7 linked regions of the Homo sapiens genome follow. The protein of the gene in region 2 purifies or fractionates together with the protein of the main gene of each other region. This does not show direct contact. Each region holds a gene or a part of one and is shown on either strand. Other genes may lie near its edges.

Region 1 (3,500 bases), on a different chromosome or scaffold from region 2:
GGGCTGATCAGATGCTGACTGAAGAGAGATACAATCAAACTTCATTTCAGAACTCACTGAGCACTTCTGTTCCCAAAAGGCTGTCTTGTTAAAAACCAAATGCTTTTCTTCTTGGGTACAATCCATGTTAGAAAAGAATTCCTCATGGTTCTTTGCAATAGTATCTTCAAAGATTCCTTTATTAGAAGGCATGTCAGTTTTATTCGGGTTTACTGCTAATTTGGAAGGAGATTTAACTCTTAAGGAGCCCTTAGTACCCATGCGTTCATGGAATTTCAAGCCAGCTGATAAAGTTTTACCCTGAGATTTTACATCTTTCCACAAAACCAACTTATCTGAATTCATGCGTAAAGATTTCCTATTTGATTCTTTATGTTTCTGATACGAAAATGAAGTAGTTTCTACATGGGATGATGGCACAGGATTTCTAGAGGCCCCATCTGGCTGTTCAAGATATTTCTCAACTTTGTTTGGGTCACATTTGCTAACTGAATCCAAATGAGCTGCTGGTGGTAAACTAGTTGTATTAGCTGTAACTGGTCTATCGTTAGAGCTTTCAGGTAAACAACTAGCAGGAGCATTACAAATCACTGGGGGGCGTACCAAGTTGCTTCTATTATTTGTAGCCTGACCAATATCTACTAGGTTACATTTTCTCACACTGGCCCCAATTTTATGAACAAACTCCAAGGGCTGCTGCTGTCCCTTCTCCAGTTTTTGAATAACTGATGGTCGAACTGAAACCTCCTGCGTGCCTTCCTGAGATTTATGAGGTCTGGAATGTAACTCTTCAATAGGTTCTGAAACCTCGGATGGTCTCTCTTCGGTAGCATCCTCATCCTCAACCTTATCCTCATCCTCTTCCTCTTCTTCAGAAAAAGCATCATCCAAATGCACCACTTCAGACGATGACCCAGTATTCACATGTGTCTCATCTTGTGTTGAACTAAAACGAAAGGGGGGAAACTCATAAACATATTCTAATGTCTGTTTAAAATATTAAAATAGAGGCATAATAAATGTTATTTGCTTTCTGTTCTGGACTATCCTTAAAGGACAAGGAATCCAGGCAGTCACCCCAGGCTGAACACTGCATGGACCACAGAGGGGGAATTACTGCAGAAGGTGGAGGTGGCTCCACCAATTGCTACTTAAATACAAATGGCCCCTAAACATGAAAAACTAAACAAATAAAATCATATATTATTTTTCAGTTATCAGAGTAGTAAATAGCAAAAAGTTTGACATATGTTACTTAACTTTGTATGCTTCAGTTTCTGCCTCCAAAAAAAGGGAATCTTACACTATTTTCCCTCATGAGATTGTTTTGATGAGTAAATTAATTGTTACATGTAAAGAGCATTAAAACAAAGAAACAGCTTGGCACACAGTAAGCATTCACAAATGTTAGCTATTATTATCTTAACACATTGTTTTGGTGCGGGTGTAAGGACAAAGGCACTTTAATACATTGTTCATAGGAATATAGATCAGTTAACAGTTACTGGTTAACCTCTATGTAGATTTGTAACCTCTACAAACAGCAATTTGGCAATGTCTATTAAAATTAAGAATGTACATACCCTTTGACCTCTAATTCCACTTTTGGTTTTCTCATGTGTTTAATGAACACGTACAAGAATAGTTACTGCTACTTTTGAGCGGAGGGAGGGGTAATAGCAAATGACTAGAATCAACCTGAATACTCAGTAACTGGGTACTGGTTAAATAATTAATGGTATTTAATGGAATACAATGTGGTTTTTAAAAATAATAAAGCGGCTCTATATATACAAATAAAAACCAATTACTATAAACATTGTTAGTGAAAAGCAAGGGTACACAGAAAGCTACCATTTATGTAAAATAGAAGGGAAAAAAATAATGCACTTAGAATATCTGGAGAATGGCACATACAACTGTAGAAGTCTAGAGGTGTCAAGTGTTACCTCTAGGGAAGTGACTACAGGATGGCAGCAATTTAAGAAGACTTACTTTTGAACGTGCACTGTGAATTATGTCTATGTATATGTATTTCCCATTCAAAATTTAAATTCCATTATTTTTAAAAAGACCCAAAACTTTCATATCTAAAATCAGTCTATGAATCTCTTCTACCAGTATCAAGACAACATGTTTGACCAAAGCATTTCAGGGACTGTTCTTTCATGTACATAAAACCAACTGACCTAATGATATTGCCATGGCCTGAATTCTTAAAGTCGGGCAAACATTCATTCATGTAACAACCATCTACTAAGGACTTACTACTGCATTACAGGCACTATGCTAGGTACTAAGGCAAATTCAAAAAAAGTTAAGCTGCCTTTTAAAGACCATTCAAGTAGCTGCAGAAGGCAGACACATAAAAAATAATAACAATTCAAAGAGATAAGTATCATCACATCTAGACCTGTTTAAAAAAAAAAAAAAAAAGATTAAACTGTCACAGCCAAGAGGGACCTAAAGAGACATTACAAGTTAATGTAATGTGGTATCCTGGATGTGATTCTGAAACAGAAAAAGTAGTAAAACTAAGGAAATCTTAGTTTAAGAAAACTTAGTTTAAGTAGAAACTAAGAAGTCTGAATAAACCATGGACTGTACTAATATCAGTTCATTACTTATAACAAATATATCACATTAATGTTAATAATAGAGAAATTGTGTGAGAGAGTATTATAGGCACACTCTGTACTATTTCCTCATTGTTTCCATTAATCTAAAACTGTTTGTTTATAAAAATAGCCTATAACAATTAAAAATAAACACCTAAAAATTTATTGAATTTTTCCAATTTGAGATGTCATTTGTCTAAGAGAACATGCATACATGTGTCAGCCATATGCAATTTCATTTTAGCCTAAGTATTACTATCCCATATAAATTTATTACCTTAATATTAATTTTGAATTTAGAAAATAAAGTTAACCCTGCATCAAAAGTATTGTGATGCAGCAAAAAACAATTCTAATTTTTCATACTTCTCAACAATGACACTGCAGTGCAACAATCACTTCACTCTAGTTTTTCAGAACCCTAAACTATCTTCATTTGTCTTAAGGACTATCACAACATTCTCAAAATAAAACCAATTGTGCAATATGTAGCTAAGAAAAGAAAGAAAAGGGAAAAAAGAAAAGAAGGTATAATCATAAAATCATACAGCTGGTAAAATCCCAAGAAGGTCATGAACTGCCATCTGGATGCTTTGATCTGCATCTGTATTTGTGTGTGTATAATATGCTTAACAATTAAATCATAATCCACATTTAACTCATCATTTGTAACCACACAACAACAAAAAAAGCTCTCTAAAAATCTAACCATTAAAGATTAAAAACCACTCTTTTGGCCAGGTGTGGTGGTTCATGCCTGTAATCCCCCCACTTTGGAAGACTCAAGTGAGAGGATCACTTGAGGCCAAGAGTTTGAGACCAGCCTTGGCAACATAATGAGATCCTGTTTCTACAAAAAATTTAAAAAATAAGCCAGGCATG
Region 2 (3,500 bases):
CAGGTGGTCCTTGCGCCACACTGGAAGAACTTGACCCCAGCCATATTGTTGAGGCAACACTTGAGAAGGCTCTGTGAGCCATCATTAGCCCCGGAGAACATGGTCATTTGTCTCCCTCCTACTCTGTCAAAACTCTAGTCTGTTTTGGGTGTGTGAGGCGGAAGAGGGACCAAAGAAGGCAGGTTCCACCTTTCCAGGGCGCAGCTCCTTAGTGCAAGCATCTCTAGCTCCATAGAGTTGGGGGTGGAATTTACTGGAAAAGCAAAGGTTGGGAGAGGGACAGGAAAGGTGCCCTGCACCCCTGAGCTACTGAGAAAGGACAGGGCAGAGTCATGTCATCCATCACCCTAGCATCAACCTGGGCTTGCCTCTTCTGCCCCCAACTTCTTTCAATCAAGACATCCTTAGGATAAGGGATCCGACTTACCTAGGAGCGTCCTAGGGGCCTCTGCTGGGTCTTCTGGAGTGGAGCTTCCACCTCCTCCGTCCTCCATGATGGGGATGGAGTAGATGGCCCCACGGGATTCACTCTCTGTGGCTTCCTGAGGCAGCTGCAGTTCCTCCAGGGTCTCTGTCACTGTGACGATAGCCTCTAGTCCATCAGAGGCTGGGTTGGAGGCTGGGTTGGAGGCCTCAGGGATGGCAGAAGGCTGGGCCGAGTCTGTGGCAGGAGGAAAGTATTGATGCGAGCCTGAATAGGTAGCTCTGCCCTCCCAGGTCACAGCTTGCACCATGGAATTCTCTCAATTCTCTCACATCTTCCCTGTGGAGCACCTACTGGGGCCCAGGGAGCATCCCAGAACTTCGTCACTCATTTCTCAAGCATTCATCAAGTGCCTACAGTGTGTCATGCCAAGCATTCCCCTGGGCACTGAGGATACAGTGCAGAACAAAATAGCAAACCTCCTACCCTCAAGGGAAATTATATTCTAGAACAGATGACAAACAAACATATATTATAATCTTACAAGATAAAGAACACTTGAGCAGAGTTAGAAGATGGAGTGATGGAAAATACTACTTTGGAGTGGTCAGGAAAGGCTCAGGTGAGAGATATTCCCTAGGGGGAGGGGCTGGAGCCAGCAGGATGGATGAAATAGCTTTACCACCTTGTGATCTTGGGCTTGGGGCAAGGTGTGAGGTGTCCCAGGTATCCCCAAATTCTTTTATTTTTTAGACAGAGTCTCCTTCTGTCACCCAGGCTGGAGTGCAGTGGCACGATCCCAGCTCATTGCAACCTTCGCCTCCTGGATTCAAGCGGTTCTCCCGTCTCAGCCTCCCAAGTAGCTGGGACTACAGGCATGTGCCACCGTAACTGGCTAATTTTTGTATTTTTAGTAGAGACAGGGTTTCCCCGTGTTTGCCAGGCTGATCTCGAACTCCTGGCCTCAAGTGGTCTTGGCCTCCCAAAGTGCTGGGATTACAGGCATGAGCCACTGCACCGAGCCTCCAAAATTCTTGAAATAGAAGGGGAGAGGCTGTCATCCCCTCAGGATAGCTGGAGGGCAGAGTGCAGGAATAACTTCAGGCATCACCTGAGGATCTCAGTGGTGGGGCAAGTAGGCAAGGGAAAAGGCCACCTCCTTCTGGGACCTACTCCTTTCAAATAACCAGAAGTTTAGAATGGTTTACTTGTCCTCTGGGGAAGGGAGCCAAGAGCAGAAAACCAATGAAGTGAAGGTGGAATTGGGCTAAGAAAAGTCCTGAGGGCTGTCTGTGCTCAGCCAGGCAAGACAGGACAGTGAGTCCCTGCCCTCATCACCTGCTCCAGTGAGCCTTACTCCTCACCAGACCTTGTGTCCTTGCTGCCTGTGTCCTCCACCAATCGTAGTCCCAACTGTAGTCATATTCCCCCTCCCCTGCCCCTCCTCATGATCCAGGCCATTTCTTTCCAAAACAGTGCTTGGCTTGGCACACAATCATAGCCAGCACACAGAAGTTTTAGCTATTACTATTATTATTATTACTACTACTACTACTACTACTACTACCCCTGTTCCAGGAGGTCTTTTCAGATGGACCTGTCTTCCTATGGACTTTTACTTCCCCACCCCTCCCCAACCCCAGCCAAATATGTCCACAGATCTGTCCAAATGGAAGTAATGCTTTTCTCTCAGTCTCTCCTCATCCTGGGAGTGAGGCATCTTGTCTTCCCTTTGCTGGGGGTTCCCATGGCAAAAGCTGTGTCTTCATCCTTCAGACCAAGTGCTCCCTGAGGTTCAAGGCTGTGTCTGCTCCTTCCATTTCTGCTTCCAGCTCTTGTAACAGTATTTCAGGCTTAAAACTGGGGAAGGACCGAGACACCGCATGGCAATGCCTCTCTTATTGTCGGTCACCCTTGGCCTGGGCCTTTTGCATCTGAGAGTCCCAGAAACTGCCTCCCGCTCCAGCTCCCAACATAAGATATGGGCAGGTTTGGGTGCAGTGGCTCACACCTATAAATCCCAGCACTTCGGGAGTCCAAGATAGGTAGATTGCTTGAGCTCAGGAGTTCAAGACCAGCCTGGGCATGTGGTGAAACCCCATCTCTACAAAAATTACAAAAATTTGCTAGACATGGTGGCATAAGCCTGTGGTCCCACCTACTCCGGAGGTTGAAGTGGAAGGATCCCCTGAGCCCAGGGAGGTTGAGGCTACAATGAACCATGATCACACCACTGCACTCCAGCCTGGGGGACGGAGTGAGACCCTGTCTCAAAAAAAGAAACAAGCCATAAGATGTGGGCAGAAAGCTATCTCTATTCCCAACTGTACTTAAGGTCTTGCTCCCTTTTGGGGGAATTGTATCCATCCACCAGTATTTGGTAGTTAAAGATCTGACACCTTCTTAAGCTGTAGTTTCTGGAAATCCTCCAGAGGGCTCCTGAGGGCATTTGGTTGTTGACTGGAAGAACTTGGGCAGATTACTCATTGAATTCACAGAATGTTGGTCGTCTTTGCTCTGCCAATAAGCTGACAGGAGATGGGAGCTTATTCAGCAGCCCAGCTGGAGCAAACAAGGCATGGACTACTGGTGGGAAGGCAGATAAGGAGAGGCCAAAAGGTGACTACTCCTTGGGCCAAACAGCTGACAGACACCACACCAGAGGGCATGCCCAGAATTAGAACCCTAGATGACAAGCTGGACTTCACCCACGACCACTTCAGGCAAATGGCAAAGCCCTGAGCTAAACTGATCAGACTGGGGTAGGACTTTTAGGACTCAACTCTGCCTTTCTGAGATTGGTCTCAGCTTCTGCAGGGAGGTGGGCTCACCTCGGAAGCAGTAGACGTTGAAGCGGCTGTGCTTATTGGGGAAGCCAGTCTGGTTGGGGAAGAGGAAGAGAGTCTTGACACCAGGCAAGCCCCCACCACAGCGCTGGCTGGGTGTGACGATGGGGTAGCGCACACTGCCATCAGCTAGCCACCCTGGGCTGCAGTGGTCCAGGCCACCATCCCAGGCTGCATACAGTTGGCCCGTGGTGGCAATCTCTGCACCCCGCTCCTGGCAGTACGCCCGT
Region 3 (3,967 bases), on a different chromosome or scaffold from region 2:
TCCCCATTTCTTTTGTGGTATCTCCCCCTACCACAAACCAGGCTGGAACCCAAGCCCCTTCCTCCACAGCTGCCTTCAGTGGGTAGAATGGGGCCAGGGCCCAGCTTTGGCCTTAGCTTGACGGCAGGGCCCCTGCCATTGCAGGAGGGTTTGGTTCCCACTCAGCTTCTGCCGGTCGGCAGCCTGGGCCAGGCCCTTTTCCTGCATGTGCCACCTCCAGTGGGAAACAAAACTAAAGAGACCACTCTGTGCCAAGTCGACTATGCCTTAGACACATCCTCCTACCGTCCCCAATGCCCCCTGGGCAGGAGGCAGTGGAGAACCAAGCCCCATGGCCTCAGAATTTCCCCCCAGTTCCCCAAGTGTCTCTGGGGACCTGAAGCCCTGGGGCTTACGTTCTCTCTTGCCCAGGGTGGGCCTGGTCCTGAGGGCAGGACAGGGGGTTTGGAGATGTGGGCCTTTGATAGACCCACTTGGGCCTTCATGCCATGGCCTGTGGATGGAGAATGTGCAGTTATTTATTATGCGTATTCAGTTTGTAAACGTATCCTCTGTATTCAGTAAACAGGCTGCCTCTCCAGGGAGGGCTGCCATTCATTCCAACAGTTCTGGCTTCTTGCTGTAGGACCAAGGGGTTGCCCTGGAGGAGGGGTGGGGGCCCCGGCCTCGGCATGGCTACTCTAGGAAGAGCCACTGCTACTCAAGGAGTCACTCAGCCCCTTCTGTGCCAGAAGTCCAAGTAGGGAGTCGGACCCTCAACAGCCTCTTCTTTCTCCTGAGCCAGGAAGACAGACATGAATGCATGATGGGACAGGGCCTGGGTCTTTAATGGGTTGAGCTGGGGAGGGCCTGTGGTGAGCTCAGTTGTAGGCTATGACCTGGTTGATCCAGGTGCTGAACTTGCTAACTCGAGTATACACAGCAGGTGCGCGCACATTGCAGTTTTTGGTGCCCCAGGAGACAATACCAATAAGCACCCATGTGTTTCCCTTCTGGCAGACAAGAGGGCCTCCGGAGTCACCCTGAGAGGGAAGAGGGAGGGAGAATTGAGTAGGGGGGGTTGGGGAGGTATACCACAGGACAGCGCAGAGGAGCGGGTGCTGGGGCTTACCTGGCACGAGGAGGCACCTGCGCCACCTGCACAGATCATGGAGTCAGTGATACTTGAGCCCCAGTACTGCCGGCACTGATTCACAGTGACCAGGGGCAAAGCCACCTGCTGCAGATGTGCTGGTGTCACATTGCCTGTGGGCCAGGAGGGGTGGTCACATGGGGCCCAGAACACTGGTCCCCACCCCAGTCCTCCCACCCTGAGCTTTGGCCTGAGTCCCTACCCACGCCACTGAGGCGACCCCAGCCGGTGGTGACACACGTGAGGCCTTCAGTCAGAGCCTCGTTTGAGGATGCCAGGCAAACTGGCGAGATGCGTGTTGTGTACTGGGCTGGCGAGGCGAGCTTCAGCAGCGTCACGTCATTGTTCATGGTGGTAGAGTTCCAGCTAGGGTGTGTAATGGCCTGTGGGGTCAGAAACAGTCCATGTTCTGATGGGTGCTGAGCAGGGTAGGCCAGGGCATGTCCTGAATTCCTCGTTCCCAGCACCCACCCACCTGCACTGCCCACTTTTCCTCCGTGTCTGCAGCCCAGGCACTCACCCGAGAGACGGACAGAACCTGCAAGGGCTCTGCGTTTGATGATCGGTCATACTCGCCCAGGACAACAAAATGGCGGCCAGGGCTGCAAGGGGGTGGGATTAGGCAGCTGCAGGGAGGCCAGCGCGAGAGGGGGACAGCCAGGGGAGGAGGCAGGAAGAGGCGAGGGGCGGGGCAGGTGGAATGCAGGCACTCACCTGACATTGCAGTGGGCAGCAGTGACCACCCAGGACTGGCTGATGAGAGAACCACCGCAGAAGTGGAAGCCGCTGCTGTCCTGTGGTCAGGGCTCAGAGGTCAGAGTGGGGGTGGGCTGCTGAGGCTGCCCCTAGGCATGACGTACCCAGGACCCTGCCCACCCCTCTGGTGGTGTACCTGCAGGGACACCTGCCAGGGCCAGGAGCCCAACACTGCATTCTCCCCGTTGACAATCCTCTGGCTGAAGCTCAGTGCCGGTTTGATGGCAGGAATGCCGCAGCCTGGCCATTGGGCTAATGAGGACCTGCTTCCCATGCCTCAGCCCATCTTTCCCCACCTCCTTTTGGGTGCCCCAGGCTGTGCACCCCAGAGAGGTCTGTCGAGAGGGTACAGCACTACCCCTTCCCCAACAGGGTACATGCAAGCACCTTCGGGCCCCACAGCTATCTTGGTTATCCCTATCCACCCAGTCCCCCAGCCCTGCTGTTCTCCTACATCTGTCTCCAGCCTAGTCCCCGCTGTTCCCCATCTCTACCCCTGGTCTCTCTGCCCCCTCCCGACCTGAACAGTTCATACCCTTCATGCAGCCAGAAGGTTCTTTCTAAAAGACATGGACAGGTCTTCCTGTCTCAGCTTCCTAAACCCTCCCGGGCTCCAGGGCCTGGCTCAATCTCTGGTCCTATTTGTGAGACCACCCCACCTCTTGCCCCCTCCCAGCCCTGCAGGCCTGTTCCCTGCTCCACTGCCCTGGCATATCCTGTTTCTTTTGCCCACTCTGTCCACCTTCGTCCCTTCCAGCCAGCCTAGCTCCTTCCCTGGGCTGTTGCTGGGAGCTGAGTTGCTCCCAGGGCTGAATCAGGGCTGGTCCTGGCCCACTCACCCCAGGAGGAGCCGAGGAGAACCAGGCTTAGGGTCAGGCTGAGCAGCAACATCGTGGCAGATGTGAGGTTGGGAGCTGGGTCTGGCTTTATGGGTCTTCTCGTCCTTGAGCTAAAGCTCCAGGCCTGAGGCCAGGCCAGCTGTGTAGACTCAGCCCCCTCCCACGCTCCAGGCAAGACAGGCCCTTTAGGCCAAGGTCCCCTGACCGAGACCTAGACTTATCAGACAGAGCCCAGGTGTGAGACTCACCTCTGCCACCTCCCAAAGCCTGGCCTCTAATTGGCTCCCAGAACCACCTCCCATTCCAAATGTTGAGCCCTCGGTACTGAGGACAGATGGTTAAATTAGGTCTATAGTGACAACCTGGTGGCTGGGATCACAGGAGTCACCCAGGGCTAACAAAGGCACCAGGCTTTCAGAGAAGGCCGCTCAGCGTCCAGGGTGTTCTGACTGGTGGATGGAATGCTCACTGCGGTCAACTTTGCTGTGAAGGGCCAGGGGCTGTGAGGTTCTGGCAGGCTGGGAGTCCTAACACATCATCGCAGTGGTTCCTCGTCCATTTGGAACAGGAGTCACAGGTCTGCTCAGAGATGGTGACTCTCCCACCAGCACGTGGTTGAGTTGTACACAAACTCGCATTTGTCTGGCGCTGAAGCCTCCGCTCTTAACAATGAGATGATACTTATGAAGGGCCTGGCATTTAGGAGGGCAAAGTGTGAGCTCTTGGTGCCTGGCCGACCGTGGACTGAGGCTGCAGGTGGAGAGTGACAGACATCAAATCTCTGCCACCCTCTTTAGGCCTTGGGGCTCCCATGGGCAAGCCCCTGGTGTCTGTAGCCCATTTGTTACTGAGCTGCAGACCAAGCTTGAAGGGAGAAGACACCCTGTGTGCAAAGTTCCAACAGGTGCATTGGCTGGCGGCCTTCTGGGAGTGTGAGGGCTTTAACTGATTCAAGAACAGATCAGGGCTGGGTGTGGTGGCTCACACCTGTAATCCCAAAACTTTGGGAGGCAGACGTAGGAGGCTTGATTCCAGGAGTTCGAGACCAGCCTGAGCAACATCATGAAACCCTGTCTCTACAAAAAAAATTTTTTTAAATTAAGAAATGAGCTGGGTATGATGGTACACACCTGTAGTCCCAGCAACTCAGAAGGCTGAGGCAGGAGGGATCACTTGAGCCCTTAAGTTCAAGGCTGCAGTGAGCCATGAGTGCACCACTGCATTCCGGCCTGGGCGATGG
Region 4 (3,500 bases), on a different chromosome or scaffold from region 2:
TCGGGAGACTGAGGCATGAGAAGCACCTGATGGTGGGAGGCAGAGGTTGCAGTGAGCTGAGATCGCACCACTAACATTCTAGCCTGGGCGACAGAGCGAGACTCTGTCTCCAAAACAAAACAAAAGATTTTCTGTGAGAATGACTGCATCGGCCCCTCGGGTGGCAGCGCTTCTCCAGGGCAAGGTGAGGGGAAGCCCAGTGATGGGAGTGCTGCCTGGAGAGGAGTCAGTTCCAGTGGTGGGGGCCCTGGGCTTTGGCTGAGGGCTGTGCGTTGGCAGCTGCTGTGCCTCTCACAGCCCTTCCCAGCGGCGCACGTCATGAGTGTCAGTGTGGAGTCCCAGGCCTACCTCCTCTGGGCCACTTTGTGACCATGTTTCTTGCCTATGGCAGGGTAATTTCAGGATCTAAATTGGTACACTTGGACGTTCTCAGCCCCAGGAGGCAGCTGTTCCCGTTCTAGGTTTTTTTTTTTTTTTTTTTTTGGTAGAAATGGGGGCTTGTGATGTTGCCCAGGCTGGTCTCGAACTCCTGGGATCAAGTGATCCTCCCATCTTGGCCTCCCAATGTGCTGGGATTACAGGCATGAGCCACCGTGCCCTGCTAATTTTCTTACTACTATTTTTTGTAATGCTGCAGTCTTGCTGTGTTGCCCAGGCTGGTCTTAAGCCATCCTCCTGCCTCAGCCTCCCAGAGTGCTGGGATTACATCCCCCTTACCTTCTCTGCCAGAGGAGCCCCCGCAGTGTGTGAATGCTGAGTCATGCTGTCTACTGAGTGCTGAACGGGCTCTGCTGCTCTGGTCCTAGGCTCCGTATGTGGATGTGATCTGTTTGAACAGCTACTACTCTTGGTATCACGACTACGGGCACCTGGAGTTGATTCAGCTGCAGCTGGCCACCCAGTTTGAGAACTGGTATAAGAAGTATCAGAAGCCCATTATTCAGAGCGAGTATGGAGCAGAAACGATTGCAGGGTTTCACCAGGTAAGCAGTGTTGAGCTTTCTGCTTGTGTGTTCTCTCAGGGCAGAGATGTCACTCACCTCCTCCAGCCTGACCTGCGCCCACTGCACTGCTCCCCTCGCTTCAGCTTTGGGCTCTCCTCCCACGGCCCCGTCCACGTTCCCTCACCGCCAACAGCCAGGCCTGTGCCCCACTCACTTGGTCCTCAGAGGTGGCCTCCTTACTGGCTTTGTTTCCAGATAGCCTCCTATCACCCGTGCCCAAGTGGTCTTTCTAACAGATCCAAATTTGTATTTGTTTTTGAGACCGGATCTCTCTGTCACCCAGGCTGGAGTGTGGTGGTGCGATCACTGCTCACTGCAGCCTTAACCTCCTGGGCTCAAGTGATCCTCCCACCTCAGCCTCCTGAGTAGCTGGGACCATAGGCACATGCCAACACGCCTGGCTAATTTTTTTACTTTTGTAGAGATGGGGTCTTGCCATGTTGCCCAGACTGGTCTTGAACTCCTGGCCTCAAGTGATCTGCCTCAGGCTCCCAAAGTGCTGGGATTACAGGTGTGAGCCTCTGCACCAGCCACAGTTGAAAATTTTGGGAGTCCTGTCATTGGCTCCCCCAGGCCCACAGGACAAAGCCCTAACCTCTGGTCAGGACACTCAGTGTCCTCTGCTCTCTCCTGGGTTTTCATCCCCTTCTCCCCTCTATCCCAGCCACTGATCTGTTTCCACTGCCCTCGCTTGCTCTCCTGCTCTTGCTTGAGCTGTTTCTTCTGCCTGGAATGCCCATGTTGGCACCATAATCACCAACTAAAATATCCTTTTTCTTAATTTTCATATTTTAGATATAGGGTCTTGCTATGTTGTCCAGGCTGGTCTCAAACTCCTGGACTCAATTGATCTTCCTGCCTTGGCCTCCAAAAGTGCTGGAATTACAGGCATGATCCACTGTGCTAGCCTTTTTTTCTTTTTCTTTTTTTCAGGGTCTTGTTGTGTTGCCCAGGCTGGAGTGCAGTGGTGTCATCATAGCTCACTGCAGCCTTGAACTAAAGGGCTGAAGTAATTCTTCCACCTCAGCCTCCTGAGTAGCTGGGACGACAGGCATGAACCACCATGTGCAGCCTATTTTTAAATTTTTTTGTAAAGATGGAGTCTATCAGGCTGGTCTAGAACTCCTGGCCTTACGTGATTGTCCTGCCTCAGACTCCCAAAGTGCTGGGAATCCAGGCATGAGACACCATGCCCAGCCTGTCGTCATTTTTTTAATCTATCTCATTTTTTTGTCCTCCTCACCAAAGATATGTTGGTTTGTCTTGTGAGGTTTTTTTTTTCCTGTGGATTCCTGAACCCCATCCAGCCCCTCATTCCCACCCCAGCCAGCTCACACTTGTTTGTCACAGCTCCTGGTTGACACACAGGGAACAGCCACCCACAGTGGACTGCGCTGTTCTGTTTGCACCCTTAAATTTATCGTGCTTACAGAATGCCACTTCTGCAAACTAGTCAAGTAGGGGAAGTGGCTCTTGGATATATTTGCTTGCGCATCCTCTTTGAAAAGGTAACCAGCTCTGAATTCTTTTTTTTTTTTTGACACAGAGTTTCGCTCTCGTTGCCTAGGCTGGAGTGCAGTGGCGCGATCTCGGCTCACTGCAATGTCCACCTCCCTGGTTCAAGCGATTCTCATGCCTCAGCCTCCCGAGTAGCTGGGATTACAGGCATGCGCCACCACGCCCACCTCATTTTGTATTTTTAGTAGAGATGAGGTTTCACCATGTTGGTCAGGCTGGTCTTGAACTCCTGACCTCAAGTGATCCGCCCGCCTTGGCCTCCCAAAGTGCTGGGATTACAGGCATGAGCCACCGTGCCAAGCCCTAGCTCTGAATTCTTAAGAAACTCTTGAGAGGGTCTAGGTCAGTGCTGATAGAACCTCTGCAGTGCTGGGCATGGTGGCTCACACCTGGAATGCTGGCACTTTGGGAGGCCAAGGTCAGAGGATCTCTTGAGCCCAGGAGTTTGAGACCAGTCTGTGCAACATAGACCCCATCTCTACAAAAAATTTAAAATTAGTTGGGCATGGTTATGAGTGCTTGTAGTCCAAGCCACTTGGGAGGCTGAGGTGGGAGGATTGTTTGAGCCCAGTAGGTCAAGGCTGCATTCAGCTATGATTGCACCACTGTACTCCCACCTGGGTGACAGAGTGAGACCTTGTTTCAAAAAATAAAAAAAAACAAACTTGCAATGATGGAAATGTTCTATATTTGCACTGTCTGAAATGGTACACACTAGCTACACATGGCTACTGAGGTCTTGATATATGACTAGGATAACTGAATTGATTTAGTTTAATTAAATAAATTTTTTTGAGACAGCCTCACTCTGTTGCCCAGGCTGGAGTGCAGTGGCATAATCACAGCTCACTGCTCAACCTCCTGGGCTCAAGCGATCCTCCCTCCTTAGCCCCAAGTAGCTTGAACTGCAGGCGTGCGCCACCACACCTGGCTAATATTTTGACTTTTTGTAGAGACTGGGTCTCACTGTGTTGCCTA
Region 5 (2,950 bases), on a different chromosome or scaffold from region 2:
GTCAGCGAACTCAAATGCCACCCCTTCAGTGAGGCCTTCTGTGTACATTCTTTTCCACATCACCCAGTTTTCTTTTCTTTGAGACAGAGTCTCGCTCTGTTGCCCAGGCTGGAGTGCAGTGGGGCGATCTCGGCTCACTGCAACCTCTGCCTCCCTGGTTCAAGCAATTATCTTACCTCAGCCTCCTGAGTAGCTGGGATTAAAGGCGCGTGCCATCACACCCACCTAAGTTTTGTATTTTTAGTAGAGACAGGGTTTCACCATGTTGGTCAGGCTGGTCTTGAACTCCTGACTTCATGATCCGACTGCTTCGGCCTCCCAAAATGCTGGGATTACAGGCGTGAGCCACTGCGCCCGGTCCAGTTTTATTTTCTTCCTAGCACTTAGTCCTGAAGTTATATTATGCACAATGTACCCTGCGTGTCACTATTCCCAAAGGCCCTACAGAACCTGTTCAGTCACGCGGAACCACCTTTTTTTTTTTTTTTTTTTTTTTTTTTGGAGTCTCGCTCTGTCGCCCAGGCTGGAGTGCAGCGGCGAGATCTAGGCTCATTGCAACCTCCACCTCCCAGGTTCAAGCAATTCTCCTGCCTCAGCCTCCTGAGTAGCTAGGATTACAGGCGCCCGCCACCACGCCCGACTAATTTTTTGTATTTTTAGTACAGACGGGGTTTCACCGTGTTAGCCGGGATGGTTTCCATCTCCTGACCTCGTGATCCGTCCGCCTGGGCCTCCGAAAGTGTTGGGATTACAGGCGTGAGCCACCGCGCCTGGCCGGAACCACCTTTAATCCTCACCAGGCAACCTTGGACAGGAGAAACTCGGGCCCTGACACCGCTAGTAAGGTGCCCAAGACCACATAGCAAGGCCGAGGACTGGGGTTTTCTGCTGGGGCCATTCCAGCTTTGGCTGATAATGCGTTTATTGCGTTACTTTAGTACAGTCGGCCTGCCTCGCCCCACCTCCAGCAGCCCAGCCTGTTCACAGCTTTCTGCTCACTGCTCACTACCCAAGGAGGTGGGGTCTGTCTCCCAGGGTGGGCACTCCAGGCACCTCCTCGGCCCTGGTCGTTGCTCTGGAGCTCGGCTTCCCCGTCCCTTCCCTCCGGCTGAATCCTGCGCCCGACCTGTGCCGCCCTCCCGGGGCTGCTACATTCAAGGGTTATCCTGTTAATAAATAAGCCCGCGCAGCTGCCCTCAGCCAGGGCCTGTCGGTTGGTGTCTCCATCGGCCGGTGACCCCCAATGTGCCCGGCCCCAACCCGTCCTTCTTTTCAGGGTCTGTCTGGCTCCTCTCTCGCCTGTCGTCTCCTGCTTGGTTCCCGGCGTGGGGACAGTCTGGTCACCAGTGCGTTGCGCTGCGCGGCCCCCGCTCAGCGCGAGGCTCAGGGGCGTGGGTCCTCCGGTTACGGCCCTTTCTCCGCGACTCCAGGGGCAGTGACTGCAGCGCAGGCTGCGGGCGGCACATGCGCAGGGAGTTCGCGCTGCCACCTCCGCCCGGCTCCACCAGCTGCAGAAAGTCCCGGTACCAGAGTTTGGGGCCCGGCGGCGCGGCGGGCGCAGCCTCCTCGGCCCGCGCCAGTCGTTCGGCCTGCGTAGCACTCAACACGTGCAGCGACAGGCGACGCAGCGGTTGCGTAAAGCCCTGCTCGACGGCGGCGCACAAGTACACGCCCGAGTCCCGGCGCCGCAGCCTGCGCAGCAGTAGTCCCCGGGCGGTGCGCTCGGTGCGCTCCTCTGCCAGCACCTGCGGGCAGAGGGCAGCGTGAGGCGGGGGTGTCGGGCCGGGAACAGGGCTTCCGGGCCCTAGCACGCGACGGAAGAAGCAAAGAGTCATTGGGAGCCGAGGTGGAGCGGGAAAGGGGTGCCCGCAGGCGCACATTTTAAGGCTGAGTGTTTGGGAGCTGGTGGTCTTCAAGGGAGAATCCGAAAGAGGCGGGGTTTACATGAACTTGGTGGGGGGTGGTCAGGGACCTTAATGGGAGGGTCGAGGGCGGGTCTTCTCCTTGATTCAGGGGAGGCGGGTCGGGAGCCCCGTTGGACGCAATGGGGCCTCAGCAGCTTGTGGAGTGCAGGTGAGGGACCAAACTGGACAGGGCGGGGAGTGGGTCTGGTTGGACGGGGCTTCGTTGGGTAGGGCGGGGCCTCTCCTGGATGCAGGGGGTGGGACAGGAGCCTGGCGGGGAGGGCGGAGTAAGGCTCACCTGGGTGTGGGCTGTCACCCCTGCGCGCTGGAAAGTCCACTCCACGCGCGCCTGCAGCGAGCGGGGCTCACACTCCAGAAAGGCGCTGCTGCCCTCCACGCCGAACACCTTGTGTTCCAGCAGCGCGGGACGAGACGAGTCTTGGGGCGAGAAGAAAGTCAGATTTAGGCAAGGCAGGGCAGGTGGGGCGTCTTCTGGGGCTGAGGGTAGGGGCAGCTGGGGCACTCACCTCCGGAGCACAACGTGCTGGGGTCGCCATTCCTTACGTCTTGCCGCCGGAACCGCCTGTGGGGAACATCCGATCTTCTGTGAGCCCTTCTTTCAGCCCCGGGCAGTGAAAGACCCTTCGCCTCCCTCCCGGCGGCCCAACCCCGACCCCGCCCACCTCTTGGCACTGGGCTGGAAGCGCGTGCACGCGACCCCGTCCCAGGCGCAGTAGGGGTCACGCGCCAGACAGCATTCGGTGCAGACGCGGCCGTGGGCAGCGCAGCGGTGCAACGCGATCTGGGCCACCGCGCTCCGCGAGGCTACGTACAGCTGGTGCTAGGGGGCACGAGGGGCTCTGGGCTGACCGAGGGCGACCCCACGCCTGCCTCCCATCGGTCAGGGATCCCTTCTTCCACTCGACAGATGGGAACACTGAGGTCTTACGCCTCAGGTCACACAGTCTAACAAAGCCAGAGCCTGTACTCAAACCCGGGACTGCAAACTACCAAAAGGGGCCAGAGGCTTGGGACGCGCCAGGCAC
Region 6 (3,500 bases), on a different chromosome or scaffold from region 2:
AAGTTAGTAATTTCACTTGTAACAATCTGTCCTAAGGAAGCACGCTTAAAAAAATGCTGACAGAGATTCACTGCAACATTATTTATTATGGTGAAAAACCAGAAAATACCTAATATCACAAAATAGTTCATTAAATTATAGGACTTTTTCTGTTGTTTTTTGGAGACAGAGTCTCACTCTGTCACCCAGGCTAGAGTGAAATGACGTGATCTCAGCTCACTGCAACCTCTGTCTCCTGGGTTCAAGCAATCTCCTGCTTCAGCCTCCCCAGTAGCTGGGATTACAGGAGCCTGCCACCACACATGGCTAATTTTTTGTATTTTTAGTACAGAGGAGGTTTCGCCATGTTGCCCAGGCTGGTCTCGAACTCCTGAGCTCAGGCAATCCGCCCACCTCGGCCTCCCAAAGTGATAGGATTTTAGGCGTGAGCCACCATGCCCAGCCAAATTATGGGATTTTAAAATAATGGAATCTTATACAGTCATGAAAAATTATGTTTCAAATATTCATGCTTGAAATATATCAGGAAAAGACTCATGTTAACAAATGACAAGGCAAGGAAATTACATACATGATGTGATCAACTATGTAAAAACCATATTACAGAAAGAAGACTGAAGAAATGTTTAAACTTTATTTGCATTTTTTTGTATTTAAAAATTTTAATGAATAACCTGTATAGGTGGAAAGTATTACTTAAAAAAATGAAAAGCATGTAATCAGGACTTCCTAACTCGGCCTCCCCTGTTCCCATTACTCTAACTTTCGCATGCACACACACGTACCTTGTAGCCTCCAATTCTGTGGTCAGGTTTGAATTCTTTGCCATTTTTCAACCAGCGCAGTGTGGGGTTTGGGGTCCCACTGGAAGGGCATTTGAACTTCACTGTCTTGGCAGCCGGCACTGCATGCAATTTCTTTTCCATCTTTTCTGGGGATGTCCAATATGGAGCTACGGCTGCCCGGGGAAAGCCAAGAGAGACAGGCAGGGTGGAGAGGAGCAGCTGGTCAGGCTCAGGAGCAGGGCCCAGGCCAGGACCTGGAGGTGTCTTGCCCATCTGCCCAACACCTGTGAGCAGTGCCTGGCACTTAGCAGAACAGGCACCGTGACCCCATGTGCCCTCCTCTTCCTCCCCTTTCAGCCTTCCCCTCCCCTCTTAAACCCAATGCCCAGACCCAAAGGGCAGTAAGATAGGAAACAGTGTCTCACGCATACGGTTTGGTTTGGTGTTATCTGTTTCTTTCTCCTCTGAAGAGGAGTCATCATCATCATCATCATCCTCCGAGGAGGGGAGAGCATCTATGGGAAGAAGAAGGGGCACTGAGGTTCCTCCTAGGGACCCCTAGATTTCACCAAGGCTAGTGCAGTTCCAGATGAACACGGACACCCTCCCCATGGGGATCCCAGTCCCACTGCTCCCTTAGTGATGATCTCTTGGTGGGATGGAAACTGTTTAAGAACAGTTCCTGTGCGTGTTTGCTTCCTTCCCCGAAGCACTGCCCCCACTGCCTGGAAGCCTTCACACTGGGTGGTTCCATCAGGGTCAGCTGTTCCTATTTAACTTAATTCCGTCCTACATTCAAAGGCGCTTTCTCAACTTGTGGTGCCACCTGGGTGTGCTGGAGCCAGGCAACCTGTATTCTTCTTTGGACGGCTGACTATAGGGAAACCCAGGCAGGTCTAGACACACTGTGGCTAGATGCTATTTCCAAAGGATGGGCTAAACACCCCACAGTCAGAATTTTTCTAGCATGTGTCTACTAAGGTTTGGGGGCTGCCCTCCTTAATCAGAGCAGATAGGGCACCCACCACCCCAGCAGCTGCCAACACCTCTCCCCAATAAGTATTTATTTCTTGTAAGAACACGCTTGATACACATGTGGTCACCCATCAGGGTTCATGCCAGATCTTTCTCCAGTCCTTCCTATCACCTTTGGGGATCTGCTGCCAAGTCCACACCCTGAGGTGCATAAATGGCATAAAGAAAATTTCAGCTCCACTTCCTCAACTCCTAGTTTTGTGAAAGTCACATTCTAAGAGTGGCAAGTTCCCAAGTTCACAGAGCTCCAGGGCTCCCTGGCTGCCCTCGCACAGCTCCCTTGCGGTGCACCTGGGTTCCTCTCCAGCAGAGCAGGGATACCACCACCTGTTCAGGGCCTCTAATCACTAAGCCGAGTACCAAGTCCAAATGGCAAGGGAGTGATGGAGTGGAAGCTGGCCGAGCACCACTTAGCCTCCTGGAGATCTGGGCAAGCTGTGGTGGAAAAAAATCACAGGGTCTTAACATCCCAAGAGCCCTGGCAATCACCTCCGAGGTGTGTCCTGGAAGCCCCAGATCTCCGGCCCTGGGGCCCACCCCACCTAGTCACCTCTCTGAGAGCCAAGCCACGCGGCAGGCAGGGAGCAATGTTAGTGGGCAGCAGTTTCTGAAGCAGAGTGGGGGCAGATCACGGAGGGGGAGGAGGTTCACCTTCCTCTGAAACTGGCAGAGAGGGCTGGAGGGGGTGGGTCTAGGGAGGGGCAAGGGCAGGGCTTGGCTACCAACCTGAAACATTGACGGAGAAGTAGGTGGTGTCACTGCCCGAGGGGCTGCTGGTTACGCAAGCATAGAGGCCGGAGTCTGCGGGCACGGAGTCCTGCACCTCCACCTCCTCCCCTGTGATGCGGGTGCGGTTGCTTTCCGCCAGCTGCACCCCGTCCCGCAGCCAGTTGATGCTCTGCACATCGTCCCGCAGCCGACAGCGAAGCTGCAGCAGGTCACCGGGGTGGACCAGGAAGGACTCCACTTCCACAGGGGCTCCCCAGGGCTGGGCTGCAGCCACCACGGGGCCGGGAAGGGAAGCCAAGGGGCGAGAGAGGAAGACAGGGAGAGGGGAGGAGGGGAGAGACAAAGGGAATTACGCTGGCCACACGGAGCCGCACCATCCTGGGCATCACTTACTGGAGGCTACTGAGCCAGGGCAGTGGGAATTGGAGCATGGGTCAGTGGGGAAAACAGCTGGCTGCCTGGGAACCCCCATCTCTTTTCCACCCCACTCCTCCAAAAGTCAAAGGAAGAAAGAGGCAAAGTTAGGAAGCAGCTGTAGCAGCATTAAGCGCATTTCATTTCCCCCATCCTAAGGGGAAAGGTCGGCCCTCCCCAGGACTTCTTTGTGTCCGGAGTTGCCCCCTCCCCAGATGCTCAGTTCTTTGCCAAGATTGCCACTTGCCAGAGGAACACCCCATTTCCTTTGGGATAGCTCAGCCTCACCCTTCCCTAGCAACAGCTGAACAAACCCCGCCCCTCAAAACCCCAGCAGCCCCTGCCCAAGTCGAGAGAAGGCAATTTGTCAACTGGGGGCTGACCAGGATGCGTGTGATTCGGAGAGGGTGGGGGTCTGGCCCTCGACGCGTCAGATGCACATGCTGGGGGGGCAGCCCAAGGAGAGGTCAGCTCAGGGAACCTCTCGCTAACAGGTGTCAGGGCAGGGGATTTGGAGCTGTTGACTATATTAGGACG
Region 7 (2,270 bases), on a different chromosome or scaffold from region 2:
GACACCTGGGGTGTACGTGGGGTTGGGGGAAGGCCAGGGTACAGAGCCTGCTGGAAATGGAGACCCTGGGGGCTGGGTGTGAGCATGATACCTCAAAACATGCCCTTTCCTCCAGTCCAGCTCACTGCTCCCTCAGTGGCCCAGGGTAAGGGAGGGAAGGAAGCCAAGAGATCCTGTCTGGGGTGAGACAGTGTGCGGTGTGGAGGGCAGAGCATGGTGGAAGATTGCACTCCTGGAGCTGAGCCTTCCCAGCTCCCAGGCCTGTGCTCCTCTCCCCACCGGTCGCCTGGGTGTGGGCAGCAATGACCCTGGTCAGCCCTTCTCCTGGATCTCTGGGGGCTGAGGGCAGATGTGGCTATCATTCTCAGCATTCCCCTCCATCTCGCGACCTCTCCGGCCCTACCTCAGCTTCCGCAGCTTTTGCTGCAGTCCTTCTTGCCCCAGCCTGTGGGCAGCGGCCACCTCTCCTGTCGTTCTTAAGGCAAGAAGAGACGCGCAAATAGAGAAAATAATTTAATAGAGAAACAATGAATGATACTCTTTACACTCAGCCTCCTGCAGGGAGGACAGACAGCTCTTGCCCAAGGAAGCATTTAAGGGCAGAAGGGCTACAAATCACCAACACCCGCTGATTATTTAAAAGAAACTCTCAAATACATTCTTTTCCAGGTTAAATTCACTTTGTCCTCATAAGTGCCCATGCTGTGGGCTGTGAAGGTATCAGCCCCATTGAAGAGATGGGGAGACCCAGGCCCAGAAAGGGGAAAGAGCTTGCCCAGGGCTCCACGGCGGCAGGGCAGGCCTAGAAGTGGGTGGCCTAGAGGGCACTGGGTCAGACTGTCTCCAAGCCTCCCTCTCCCTGTCCCAGGCTCAAACTCCAGCACAAGGCCCGCGCTGTGGCTAGTGTGGGGCCCAGAGGGAACGGAGGTGGGAGAGATGAGGACCAAGGAACCCTCCTGAGTGCTCCCTAGGCCAGGGCAGGAACAAGGCTTGGGCTTCTTAAACCCCAAAAGATCCAGCTTTCATGCTTGAGGGATTAACCTAAAGTACCAAGATGGCGGGCAGGTGTGAGTTCCCAGAAAGACTGGTGGGTTCTGTGGGGCTGAGTGCATACTGTGGGGAGGGTGGTCCCTGAGGGGTGTTGGAGTGCCCCATTCCAGTGCAAAGAGGAGCTGAGTTGGAATAAGGGGTCCCGGGAAGGGCAGGCCAGGGGCACAGCTGCCTGCTGGCAGGGCGAGGGCAAGCACAGAAGTACCCTGCGGGGGCCCCTTGCCCTCTTCTCGGAGCCAAAAATGATAGAGGGCTGCATGCCCCAAAACGGACAGGCACAGGACCCAGTAACCACCGAGTAACAAAGGTCTCATGAAAGAAGTGCTGTTCTCCCAGAGTCCTGCCCTCCCCTCCAGTATACAGCACAGCCATCAAACCATCTGTGGGGTGCAGAGTAACCTGAGGGAGGCTGGGGACTCTGGGATATGGGGGTCTCAGCACTGTCCATCCAAGAAGCCTGCTCGCCAGGGCTGCAGTGGGCCACTTCATTCTTGGCGTCAGCCTGGGTTAGTGCCCCTCTGCTCCAGATGGCTCACATCTGTCCAATCATTCTTCTAGGGTCACTGAAGGGTGCAAGCTACGGGGGTGAGGGGGACAATGGGGGAGGGTCAGTCTCAGGTCTTTGGTAAGGGAGGCAGAACCCAGGGCCCCCAGCCCTCACCCCTCCTTGGATGGAGGATCGACCCCAGGGCAGGACTCACAGCTACGAACAGATTCCGACAGTCCCTCTTTGTCCAGGGTGTCAGCTTCCCAGCGAGATTCCCTCATCTGTGGGATGTGAAGGCAGCACAAGGGATGAGAGGCAGACACACGAGCCACAGCGCAGTGCCGAGCAAGTGAGAGAGTGAAGGACGGGGACACGAGCCACAGCGCAGTGCCGAGCAAGTGAGAGAGTGAAGGACGGGGACACGAGCCACAGCGCAGTGCCGAGCAAGAGAGAGAGTGAAGGGCAGATACAGGGACAGGGAGGCCTGCAGAGGAGGCGAGAGAGCAGACATACACCAGCAGGGGGGGACGACAGCCACAAGCAGAGAGCAACAGAACCCACAGACCCTAGCCCCAGCGTGGCCCCCATGTGCCCACCTTGACCTGCTCCTTCAAGTATTCAGCTCGGGCCATGAGGTTCTGAACCTGCCAAGGAAAGATATGCCCTTGGGTGTGGGGGAGAGTGGCGGGGGGTGGGGTTTCAAAGGGAACTCCTCCTCACCCCTGATGCTCTC

Evidence for each region.
Region 1: the proteins of BCAN (region 2) and ZDBF2 purify together in Homo sapiens (affinity purification with mass spectrometry; one large-scale study listed by BioGRID and IntAct). This does not show direct contact.
Region 3: the proteins of BCAN (region 2) and CTRL purify together in Homo sapiens (affinity purification with mass spectrometry; one large-scale study listed by BioGRID and IntAct). This does not show direct contact.
Region 4: the proteins of BCAN (region 2) and GUSB purify together in Homo sapiens (affinity purification with mass spectrometry; one large-scale study listed by BioGRID and IntAct). This does not show direct contact.
Region 5: the proteins of BCAN (region 2) and SEMA3B purify together in Homo sapiens (affinity purification with mass spectrometry; one large-scale study listed by BioGRID and IntAct). This does not show direct contact.
Region 6: the proteins of BCAN (region 2) and FGFR1 purify together in Homo sapiens (affinity purification with mass spectrometry; one large-scale study listed by BioGRID and IntAct). This does not show direct contact.
Region 7: the proteins of BCAN (region 2) and ULK3 purify together in Homo sapiens (affinity purification with mass spectrometry; 2 studies listed by BioGRID and IntAct, with this or other methods). This does not show direct contact.

The regions. Positions count from the first base shown.
Region 1 is NC_000002.12:206,302,163-206,305,662, reverse strand, and holds part of ZDBF2 (DBF4-type zinc finger-containing protein 2), read right to left. Parts: intron 947-3,500; coding exon 1-946.
Region 2 is NC_000001.11:156,648,617-156,652,116, reverse strand, and holds part of BCAN (brevican core protein isoform 1 precursor), read right to left. Parts: coding exon 3,256-3,500; intron 662-3,255; coding exon 428-661; intron 1-427. UniProt on the Homo sapiens protein: May play a role in the terminally differentiating and the adult nervous system during postnatal development. Could stabilize interactions between hyaluronan (HA) and brain proteoglycans.
Region 3 is NC_000016.10:67,929,074-67,933,040, forward strand, and holds CTRL (chymotrypsin-like protease CTRL-1 precursor), read right to left. Parts: upstream 2,790-3,967; 5' UTR 2,780-2,789; coding exon 2,728-2,779; intron 2,129-2,727; coding exon 2,025-2,128; intron 1,927-2,024; coding exon 1,847-1,926; intron 1,735-1,846; coding exon 1,653-1,734; intron 1,516-1,652; coding exon 1,335-1,515; intron 1,246-1,334; coding exon 1,112-1,245; intron 1,023-1,111; coding exon 861-1,022; 3' UTR 501-860; downstream 1-500.
Region 4 is NC_000007.14:65,965,214-65,968,713, reverse strand, and holds part of GUSB (beta-glucuronidase isoform 1 precursor), read left to right. Parts: intron 1-806; coding exon 807-983; intron 984-3,500. UniProt on the Homo sapiens protein: Plays an important role in the degradation of dermatan and keratan sulfates.
Region 5 is NC_000003.12:50,275,097-50,278,046, reverse strand, and holds the end of SEMA3B (semaphorin-3B isoform 1 precursor), read right to left. Parts: intron 2,746-2,950; coding exon 2,588-2,745; intron 2,488-2,587; coding exon 2,432-2,487; intron 2,343-2,431; coding exon 2,203-2,342; intron 1,746-2,202; coding exon 1,341-1,745; 3' UTR 501-1,340; downstream 1-500. UniProt on the Homo sapiens protein: Inhibits axonal extension by providing local signals to specify territories inaccessible for growing axons.
Region 6 is NC_000008.11:38,427,136-38,430,635, forward strand, and holds part of FGFR1 (fibroblast growth factor receptor 1 isoform 1 precursor), read right to left. Parts: intron 2,814-3,500; coding exon 2,547-2,813; intron 1,301-2,546; coding exon 1,211-1,300; intron 959-1,210; coding exon 786-958; intron 1-785. UniProt on the Homo sapiens protein: Tyrosine-protein kinase that acts as a cell-surface receptor for fibroblast growth factors and plays an essential role in the regulation of embryonic development, cell proliferation, differentiation and migration.
Region 7 is NC_000015.10:74,835,618-74,837,887, forward strand, and holds the end of ULK3 (serine/threonine-protein kinase ULK3), read right to left. Parts: intron 2,182-2,270; coding exon 2,134-2,181; intron 1,819-2,133; coding exon 1,752-1,818; exon of another isoform or gene 1,746-1,751; intron 1,628-1,745; coding exon 1,611-1,627; 3' UTR 501-1,610; downstream 1-500. UniProt on the Homo sapiens protein: Serine/threonine protein kinase that acts as a regulator of Sonic hedgehog (SHH) signaling and autophagy.